Linked DNA regions of Homo sapiens: region 2 is linked to region 1. The links come from fine-mapping of genetic effects on gene expression. A gene starts in region 1. The other region holds a variant in brackets. All regions are shown on one strand. Distances are between the middles of the regions. Region 1 holds the start of PAK4 (p21 (RAC1) activated kinase 4). Region 2 overlaps SAMD4B (sterile alpha motif domain containing 4B).

Evidence for each region. PIP is the estimated chance that this variant, and not a neighbour inherited with it, causes the effect.
Region 2: its variant is the best candidate, but not a certain one, in a credible set for the expression of PAK4 in testis (GTEx, PIP 0.88).

Annotation. Positions count from the first base shown.
Region 1 is chr19:39,122,623-39,127,992 of GRCh38, forward strand. It overlaps PAK4 (p21 (RAC1) activated kinase 4), which reads left to right and starts at 3,164. Exons shown (of 10, transcript NM_005884.5): 1 at 3,164-3,297.
Region 2 is chr19:39,368,510-39,373,879 of GRCh38, forward strand. It overlaps SAMD4B (sterile alpha motif domain containing 4B), which reads left to right. Exons shown (of 14, transcript NM_001384574.2): 4 at 1,146-1,616. It also overlaps the pseudogene RN7SL566P. Among named protein-coding and RNA genes, the nearest start is that of PAF1, 20 kb to the right of the region's middle. The variant G/A (reference allele first, on the strand shown) is at 2,333.

The sequences.
Region 1 (5,370 bases):
AATTTTTTGTATTCTTAGTAGAAACGGGGGTTTCACCACGTTGGCCAGGCTGGTCTCGAAATCCTGACCTCAAGTGATCCGCCTGCCTCGGCCTACCAAAGTGCTGAGATTCCAGGCGGAAGCCACCACACCCGGCCACTGTTACTATTCTTAATTCTTAAAGATACACCTTCTCCTTGACCCAGAAGTTTCATTTGTAGTAGGAACAATAATTAGAGACAGGCACAAGGAAATAATTAGAGATGGTCACAAATATTTAGCTGCTTGGATTTTGCATGACAGGGAGGGGGATTATTTATAATGGCAAGGTACTACAGCATAGATGTTCAAAAGGACAGTGATTAAACAAATTCGAGTTCATTGATAGGATGGCATCTTATGCAGCCATTAAAACTAATCTTCTTGAAGAATATTTAATGACATGGAAAGACACTGGTGATATTTACAATCTTGTGGTTTAAAAGACAACATTCTAGGCTGGGTGTGGTGGCTCACGCCTATAATTCAAACACTTTGGGAGGCCAAGGCGGGGCGGATCACCTGAGGTCAGGAGTTCGAGACCAGCCTGACCAACATGGAGAAACCCCGTCTCAACTGAAAATACAAAATTAGTTGGGCGTGGTGGCACATGCCTGTAATCTCAGCTACTGGGGAGGCTGAGGAGGGAGAATCGCTTGAGCCCGGGAAGCAAAAGTTGCAGTGAGCTGAGATCATGCCATTGTACTCCAGCGTGGGCAATGAGAGCAAAATTCCGTCTCAAAAAAAAAAAAAAAGACACAACATTCTTTACAAACGTATGTTTCCAATTCTGTCAAAAGAAAAAAGGGGTCAGTCATGGTGGCTCACACCTGCAATCCCAGCACTTTGGGAGGCTAAGGTGAGAGGATTGTTTGAGGCCAGGAGTTCAAGACCAGCCTGGGCAACACAGCGAGACCCCGTCTCTACTAAAAATTAAGAAAATTAGCCAAGCCAGGTGCAGTGGCTCATGCCTGTAATCCAACACTTTGGAAGGCCAAGGCGGACAGATCACTTGAGACCAGGAGTTCGAGACCATCCTGGCCAACATGGGGAAGCCCCGTCTCTACTAAAAATACAAAAATTAGCCGGGCATGGTGGTAGGCGCCCAGGAGTCGTTTGAACTCTGGAGGCGGAGGTTGCAGTGAGCCAAGATCATGCTACTACACTCCAGCCTGGGTGACAAAGTGAGATTCTGTCGAAAGAAAGAGGAAAGAAAGAAGGAAGGAAGGAAGGAAGGAAAGAAAGAGAAAGAAAGAAAGAAAAAGAAAGAAAGAAAGAAAATTAGCCGGTGTGGTGGCTTATGCCTATAGTCCCAGCTACTTGAGAGGCTAGGTTGGAAGGATCACTTGAGCCCAGGAGTTTCAGACTGCAATCCCGCCTGGGCGACAGAGTAAGACCCCTATCTAAAAAAAAAAAAAAAAACAAAAAACAAAACAAACAAAAAAAAAAACGAATGAACAAATAAAAAGAAAAAAGATAGGTAAACATAAAGAAAAATTAACTCATCATTCAATCATTCATTCATTGTTGCCACCGACATTAGTAGAAATTAATTAAATGCCTACTATGTGGCTGTTCTGGGGCAGAGGAGAAGCACCAAACATTTAAGAGTATCTCTGAAGGGGTGGAATTACCACGCATTCAAACAGCCCTTCCACCAATGTTTACTGAGCATCTACATGCCAACAGTGCTGGGGCACTGGGAATGCAGCAGTGAACAAAGACAGAAATCCATGTTGTCATGGGGCTGACATTCCAGCAGAGGAGACAACCAACAAGCAATAACTACAATTAGGAGTGAGAAATAAGAACAAAGCAGACAGAGTTTGGTAGTATGTGAGAGGGATGTTTGCTGCTTTCCTTAGGGTGAGCGAGGGAATTAGTTCACAGAGAAAGTGACATCTGTGTAAAGCCCTGAAAAAAGGGAGGGAGAGATAAGGATACCTGGGGGAAGAGTATGTTCCAGGCAGAGGAACAACCAGTGCAAAGACTGTGAGGTGAGAGCGCACCTGACAAGAGTTCAGGAACAGCATGAAGGCTGGAGTCCAGTGAATAAGATCCAGGAGGAGAGATGTCTGGCCGGGCGCAGTGGCTCACGCCTGCAATCCCAGCACTTTGGGAGGCCGAGGCAGGAGTATAGTTTGAGCCCAGGAGTTCGAGACCAGCCTGGCCAACACAACAAAACTCTCTCTTTAAAAATAAAAGAAAAAGGCCAGCTTGGTGGCTCACACGTGTAATCCCAGCACTCTGGGAGGCCGAGGCGGATAGATCACCTGAGGTCAGGAGTTCGACCTGGCCAACATGGTGAAACGCTGTCTCTACTAAAAATACAAAAAATTAGCTGGGTGTGGTGGTGGACGCCTGTAATTCCAGCTACTCAGGAGGCTGAGGCAGGAGAATCTCTTGAACCCGGGAGGCGGAGGTTGCAGTGAGCTGAGATCGCGCCATTGCACTCCAGCCTGGGCAACAAGAGCGAAACTCTATCTCAAGACAAATAAATAAGTAAAAATAAAATTTAAAAAAATTTTTAAAGAAGATGTCTGCTGTTTGTTTTCAATATTTTGACCAATTACTTCGTAAAAACTTATTTAAAAATTGAAGAGCAAACAGTCTCAGGTTCCCGGGCTCAGACAGACCAGCGTTCAAAACTCATTACCTTCTTTCTATGATGCTAAGCCAGCTATTTCACCCTCTGAACCTCTGTTTCTTTATCTGTAAAATGGGTATTAATGATATTATACCACAGGGTTGTATATGCAGCGAGAAAATGCAAGTAAAACACTTATCCCGGTGCCTGCCTCCTAGTAAGTGCTTAAGAACTGTTTCTGCCCATTAACTCATTACTTTCTCCCAGCCCCTAACTCCTTCTGGGGGGGAAGTTAGAAAATCGGTATCACACGAAAACAGTCATTTCCCCTTTAAGGACCTCAGTGGGCCGGGAGCCAGCCTTCCCGCACCTTTTCCAAAATTTCCAATCCCCGCTTGGCATTTTCTGCCCGAAGGTCTCCGATTGGACGCTCTGTACCAATCGGAGGCTGGAGCGGGCCCTGAGAGGCGCCCGACTCCGCCCCCGCACTGGCCCTGCCCACTGCCCGGTCAGCCTCGTTGCTATGGGGACTGGTGGGCGGTGAGGGGGGAAAGCCCCGGATGTTCGTTGGGGATTCAACATGGCGGCGGGAGTGTCCGCGGTGGTGGCGGTGCAAGAGAGCTGAGGGAGGCGCGAGGGCGCGGAGTTCCAGGTCGAGCAGTTAGGCCGCGAGCGACTGCGGCGCCGAGCCGGTAGGATAAGGGGTCCGGCCAGGGGCTTGCGGTGGGCCGGGCGCTGGCGGCGGGACGGCGTTTCCGCGAGGAGGGGGGCGGGGCCGCCGGGGTCAAAGGTCACTGGTGGAGGGAAGGGTCGCGTCCGAGGGGTCGGGGGTTAACGCAGACTGGAGGGAGTTGTAGTGGAGGTCGGAGATCAAACCAGCGAAGGGGGCGTGGCGAAGGGGAGTGCAAAGTTTGAAATTCGAAGTGGGGGCGCGTTCGAGGGGTTCTGGGCGAGTCTCAAAAAAGGCAGGGTCAAAGTTAATAATTTGAGGGAAGGCTGCCCCCACGAGGGTCAGAGGTCACAGCCCCAGGGGCGCCAGGTTGGAGGTTTAAAGCTGCCCCTAGCGGAGCAGATGAATGAGTTTTAGGTTCGGGGGCGTCTTTTAGGGGTTCAAAGCTGGGGCGTGCCTAGAAGGTACAAAGGTGAGAATCTGACAGCGGGGCAGCTGTTTCCCAGAGTCAAAAATTAAAACCCAAGGAGGGCGTATTGCGGGGGACGGGGGGGGGGGGGGGGGCCGGGTCAGAGATGCTTCCTGGTGACAGGAGAAGGGGGAACCCTCCCACAAATAATAATGGCAAACACTCATGAAACACTATGGGCTAGACCCTCTTTTTAACGCTTTACTTGTATGAGCTTATTCAGTCCTCACTATAGTCTTAGGGGGTCTTAACCTGGTATTAAGAGGTTAAGTGATTTGCACAAGGTCACCCGATGCATAAGTTGTGCGCTGGGATTCTAACTCCGGAGTTCTGGCCCAGAGCCCTGCTCTGGCCGACCGCCTCTCAAATCATCATAATGTCGGTTAATGTTTAATGAGGGCTCACACTGTGCTCCACGCCCTGTGTGCCCGGTCGTATTTCACTCCTGCTGCAATCTTGTGAAGTGAGTGCTCAAGATGAACCTACTTTACAGACGGGAAAAATGAGGCTCAGAAGCTTCTGCTGAAGGCAGAGTTAGAATCGAAGCTGGGCCTGGGTGATTCCAGGGCTCCTGCCCCTGGTCGCCACATTGTCCGCTGCCAGCCATTAGGTCTCTCCTGGAAGCAGGGGGCTGGGCAGGGCTGGGCCACTCCCTGGGCGGATCGGATTGTCTGCTTGGTTTCCTTGGAAGGGTGTGATCTGGCAGGGAAGATTCCTGTGAGCCTATGGGAGTAGGGTGTTTGTAGGTGGTCTGGAGTCCGAGCAAGGGAGTCCGACGGGCTTCTGACTGGGGAGAGTGTCCCTGGGTGGTACCCTGGGCAGAGCGGGGTGTTCACTGTTCTTAAAACCCTAAGCTCTCACTGTGGTCCTTAGTCACTCCCACCTCACTTCTTATGGCTCTGCCCATTTCTCCCCAGCCCCTTTACTGTTCTCCAACTCCAGGCCCATGCCTCCCGCCCGGTCTTTGACCTTCCTGTTCCTTCTGCTGGGAATCCTTTCCCCACCCTGCCCTCTCTCACTGACGGGTCGCTCACTCTCAGCTGGCCCGGGACCACCCTGGCTCGCCTTGCTGCAGGCTCTTTTTCTCTCATCTGACCAGCCCTTACCTCCCTCCTTACCTTAATTATTAGGGTGCATGGTGGAATTGCTCTGTGGGGTTCCTTGCCTCGGTCCCCACTGAAGCCCTGCCTGGCCTGCAGAGGATGTGACATTGCTGGGGGTTGACTGTTGGGCACTGTGCCGGGTGCTGGGAGTGTGGCAGGGGACGAGATCCACAGAGCCCCTAGCCTCAGAGGGCACTCAGTTCCCTGGTGGGAGCAGAGTGGAACCAGCCCCCAAGCCAGTGACACAAGACTGCGTCTCTGCAAACGGTGATGTGGCTTGCGAGGGCATCTTCAGAGAGCCGGGAGAGTGCCCCTACCCTGGGCTGAAGCCTGAGTCCCTTTCCCCTGGGAAGGCTCTGAAGGATGGGGAGGAGGGCTGGGAATGGGCTTACCAGGCAGGAGGAGCAGTGTGTGCAGAGGCCCTGGCATGACTGGAGGTCAGGACTCGGGTGCACAGTTGGGGATCTGGGCAACACGTAGCCTGTGCAGGTTCAGGGCAAGACGCTGAGGGGACTCAGCTTTG
Region 2 (5,370 bases), 250 kb after region 1:
AATGGGAGATGGAGGGTGCCCTGGAAATGAAGGTGATGTTAGGCTAGGAGTTCTTGGACTTGAGTCTGTTGGTGCTTGCTGGTTGCCATTATAAACTCCTGGTCAGGAACATGACATCCTGTTGTGATTTAGGAAGATAAATGCATCTGGATGTATGGGATCGATTGGAAGGGGAGAATCTAGAAGCAGAGAGACCAGTTAAAAAACAATAGCAAGCATTTATTATGTCGCCAAACCACTTTGTGTTCTTTGCTAGCTCATTGAATCTCAAAGCAACACTGTGAATTGGGTACTGTAATTATCTCCAAAATTTCGCAGATAATTTAGTGCTCCATGAGGTTCAAGGTAGCTTACCAAGATCTAGCTAGTAAGCTGGGGTGTCTAGACCATCTGATTCCAGAGCCCAAGCTTTTAACTACCATATACCACTGCCTTCTCCATTCAGGAAGGAGACTGCTTTTTGGCAGGGGAAATGGCATAGAGGCCATGAAGAATGGAGGAAGGAGTCATGGAGATAAAGCATGAGAGCAGGCCTGGGGACAGGAGTTGTTCAGATTCCAGAGTAGCAAGTTTGGCTGATTGGGAGGCACTGCAGGTTTCTGAGAACAGGAGTGATAGAACAAAGAAAAATTACTCTACACCAGCTGTGGTGGGCACATGACTGTAGTACCAGCTACTTGGGAGGCTGAGGCAAGAGGATTGCCTGAGTCCAGGAGTTCTGGGCTATAGTGTGCTATGCTGATTGGGTGTCTGCACTAAGTGTGGCCCCAGTATGGTGACCTCCTAGGAGTGGGGGACCACCAGGTTGCCTAAGGAGGGGTGAACTGGCCCAGTTTGGAAATGGAGCAGGTCAAAACTCCCGTGCTGATCAATAGTGGGATTGCACTTGTGAATAGCCACTGCACTGCAGCCTGGGCAACATAGTGAGACCCCATCTCTTAAAAAAAATAAGACAAAAATTACTCCAGAGGCAGGGTCAGTGTGTTTGATCTCACCTATATGAGGGATAAGTTTGGGAGTTATGAAAAGAAAATCGTTATGAAAAGAAGATTGGAGCTGAGGGAATAGGCCATAGGCAGTGCTCTCAGGTGAATAGGAGTACCCCACCCTGGCTCTCCTGATATTTCTTCTTATCCCTTCTGTAGCCATCGTCAGCCAGTGGCAGCAGGAGTCCAAAGAGAAGGTGGTGTCCCTCCTGCTGTCCCACCTTCCCCTGCTTCAGCCAGGCAACACAGAGGCCAAGTCGGAGTACATGAGGCTACTGCAGAAAGTGCTGGCCTACTCAATCGAGAGCAATGCTTTCATCGAGGAGAGTCGCCAGCTGCTTTCCTATGCCCTCATCCACCCAGCCACCACACTGGAGGACCGCAACGCACTGGCCCTCTGGCTGAGCCACCTGGAAGAGCGGTTGGCTAGTGGCTTCCGCTCCCGGCCAGAGCCCTCCTACCATTCACGTCAAGGCTCAGATGAGTGGGGGGGCCCTGCAGAGCTAGGCCCTGGGGAGGCAGGGCCAGGCTGGCAGGACAAGCCACCCCGGGAAAATGGACACGTGCCCTTCCACCCATCCAGCTCAGTGCCGCCAGCCATCAACAGTATTGGGAGCAATGCAAACACAGGTAAGTGGCGGGGGTGTCCCAGAAGGCCATGCCTACTTGAAAAAGGTTGGACTAGGCTCAGTGAGAGCTCTCTCGCTCTGTGGCATTAGACAAGTCACATAAGCTGTAGGCCTCAACTTTATGAGGCAATGCAGAGGCTGTGAACTGGCTTTCCCAGAGCTGAATCTGACCTACAGACATGTCTTATTGAACCCATACTTTGGTTTGGTTTTATTTTGTTGTGTTGGGTTTTTAAATAAATGTGAGTGGTACAAAGAATCAAGAATTTTTCCCTAAAAATGAGATTTCCAGCCTTTCTTGAGAAGTCAAAAGATCTAGCAACTCAACAAGATCTGTTTTCCTAGTGGCAGCAATAATATAGAGCTTAATGTTGAGCATGCCCTTTAGACCCTGCACAAGTGCCCTAGTCTGCCTCTGCTCCCACCAACCCCCCTTTGGGCATTTCTGATATATACCTGGCCTCTAAGGGCATCAGGCTATGACGCTTGATGGAGGTGTGCATACCATCATCTGAGATCCCTTCCAGTTCAGACAACATTATGGATTTTATGTATCTGGCCTCACTTTACAGCTTTGTTTCTGAGAACACTGTCTGTATAAGACAAAACTCATGCTGCAAGGTATTTGTAATAGTAGGTAGCATTTTTCAGCATTGACTATGCTAGGTACTCTTTTATAGACACTTTTCAGGTATGATCTCAGTCCGCATCACAACC[G/A]TATCATTAGCCCTATTCAACAGATGAGGACATCGGGACTCAGAGGTGAAGTGATGTGTTCAAAGTCACACGTAGAACAAGTGGTGGAACAGACCCAACCAGTCTGATGGCAGAGCCTGCCTCTGACCACTACACTGTCCTGCCAACTAAGCAGGTTTGAAAGAGCTCTCTTAGTAAAAGCCCTGCAGGCGGGAGTGAGCAGAAGTTGTTGGTATCCCAGTGACTTTTTGAAATGCACAGGATAAGGGAGGGTGGATTTTCCAAGCCATGGTAAGGCAGCATGACCTGACCCAGGGTGAGGGAGAGGGTTCATGATGTAAACCTCAGAGTAGCTAGTCACCTTCAGCAGGCACTGGTTTAAAGCAAGACAAGAGAGAGTGACAGTGAAATGTCACATGTGTCAGTGGGTGGGGGTAACCTCGGGTCCCTAATGCCCCGCTGTCTGGTACCTGGTGCTCATCAGTTATTCCTTGAGCCTGTTTTTCCCCCAGTTAGTGTGGCTATTCTGGTCCATCTGCCTCCCTCCCAGTTGCTGGTGAGAACCTGGGAAGATAGAGGGATAGAAGGGCAGTTTCAGGAAACTTAGCAACCTGAGGTGTCTTGGACCTCATTTTCCAGTCATGGAGCATCACAGTTCCAGGATGGGAGGATGTATTAATAATGATCATTCTAGGCAAAAAATATTGAGTGCTAGTCCGGGCATGGTGGCTCACGCCTGTAATCCCAGCACTTTGGGAGGCCGAGGCAGGCAGATCACCTGAGGTCAGGAGTTCGAGACCAGCCTGACCAACATGGTGAAACCTCATCTCTACTAAAAATATAAAAATTAGCTGGGTATGGTGGTGCATGCCTATAATTCCAGTTACTCGGGGGGCTGAGGCAGGAAGGTCGCTTGAACCCAGGAGGTGGAGGTGGCAGTGAGCCGAGATCTTGCCATTGCATTCCAGCCAGGGCAACAGAGCGAGACCCCATCTCAAAAAAAAAAAAACAAAAACACACATCGAGTGCTTAGTCTTTACTAGGAGCTATTCTAAGAACTTTATACATATAAACTCAAGGTTTAAAGCCAGGCATTCTGACTATAGACTTCATACTCTGAACTACTATGCTACACTACCTCCACCAAAAAGTACCTCTCCTGGAGATGCTCATCCCTCACCAAGGGGAGGGGTCACCCAGGCAGGGTGCCTATAAATTTCTTTGTCTTCATACCTTTTGTGCTCCCCATCATGGGTACCCCAGCAGCCATTAAAGGATGAAGATTGAACAATGTTGATAGGGGTTTGGACCAAAAGAGGAAAAGGAATTGGGCATTCCAAGTAGAAGGCACAGCATGAAATAAGCACGGGGTGGATAATTAGAGGGGACAGTATACAGACAGATCTGGCTGGGGTGGATTCGAATGAGTAATAACAGTAGCAGAGACTTGTGCTTACCGTGTGCCTATCCCTCTGCTAAGGACTTCATGCAGAAATGGAGGCAGAGAGGTGAATGAAGTGACTTGCCCAAGATCACACAGAGGCGACAGAGTCAGAGTCAGGATTTGAACTCAGGCCTGTCTTTACCCTCAGACCTCAGTGTGTGAAGGCTACATTCTGGGGGGCGTTGAAGGACAGGAGAAGCTTTTGGATTCCAGGCAGTTGCAGGAAACAGGAAATCATTAAAATATTTTTGAGTGGGGAGCAAGGATTGGCCTTTGAGGGCAGGCAGCTTGGGTTTGGGGTGCTGCCAAGAACAGATCAGGATTTCTTGGAGAGTGCAAGGCCCTGGATCTCTGGCCGGCATTCTTGTTTTTGTCATTCTCATGCTGTGGCCAGCCTCCACCCCAGTGCGGAGCCAAGCAGGGCTCCTCAGGAACTGCACGATCATTCCAGTCAGGGTAATTTCCTGCCTCTCAGCCTCTCCTGCCTACTTCTTGGCTGAGAAGGGAGAAAGAAGGAGGCCAGAGACACCAAAACAGGCAAAAAGGCCTGTCTTGAGGATTCCCCAGTCCCCCAGGGCCCAGAGTGTGCCATGTTCCCCAAGAGTGCTGAGTGGGGACAGAAGCCAGGGCTGAGGGAGTCTAGAGGCTGAAGAACTCCTGGGAAGAGGACCCTGGACACTCTGGGGTAGGGCAGAAACTGGTATTAAGGGTGGGCCACTGCCTTGCCCTGTCCCTTAGGTGACTTCCTAGCCAGGAGCATTAGTATTGTCACAGCTGAGGGAAGATGCTCTGGGGCCTGCACCAGGCTAGCCCTCCTTCCTGGGCTGGGTGTCACTGTAGCACTGGCAGGAACCCCAGCCTTTCCATCAGAAACAAGGCTTGGGCTCTGTCTCAGCCTGTCAACTCCCGTGGGAACTGGGGCAAAGGGCTTCAGCTCCCTGGGCCTTGATGTCCTCACCTACCCAGGGTGAGGCTCGTTGGCTTTGTTTCATTTCTTTTTGTCTAGGCTGACTTGGGGTACTTCTGGATGCCATAGGTGGAGCTCAGAGGCCCTCTTAGCACCCTTTTGTCCTTTATGAAACTTCGTTGGAAGGACTTCTGTGTGTCATGCCCTGTGCCTGATCATGGGATTGCAGAAGTAATTGGACTGGGCTGCCATTCTCCATGGACCCACAGTCCAGTGCAAGAGGGAGGCTAGTGAGGAGGGCAGCAAGCAAGAGGGAGGCTAGTGAGGAGGGCAGCAAGCGCCAGGCCTGAGGCAGCAGCAGAGGGGTACATGACCGAGGCATGAAGGGAGAAGTGGCTGATGGAGAAGAGTTGGCGAGGTGAGCGAGGCAGAGGAAAAAGCACAGATAAAGGTCTGGGAGCTCATGGGAACCTGCCCTGTCTTGGGAGTGGTTAAAAATCAAGTTGGAGGCCAGGCATGGTGGCTCACACCTGTAATCTCAGCACTTTGGGAGGCCAAGGCAGGCGGATCACCTGAGGTCGGGAGTTCAAGACCAGCCTAAGCAACATGGAGAAACCCCCGTCTCTACTAAAAAAATACAAAATTAGCCAGGCGTGGTGGTGGGTGCCTGTAATGCCAGCTACTCAGGAGGCTGAGGCAGGAGAATTG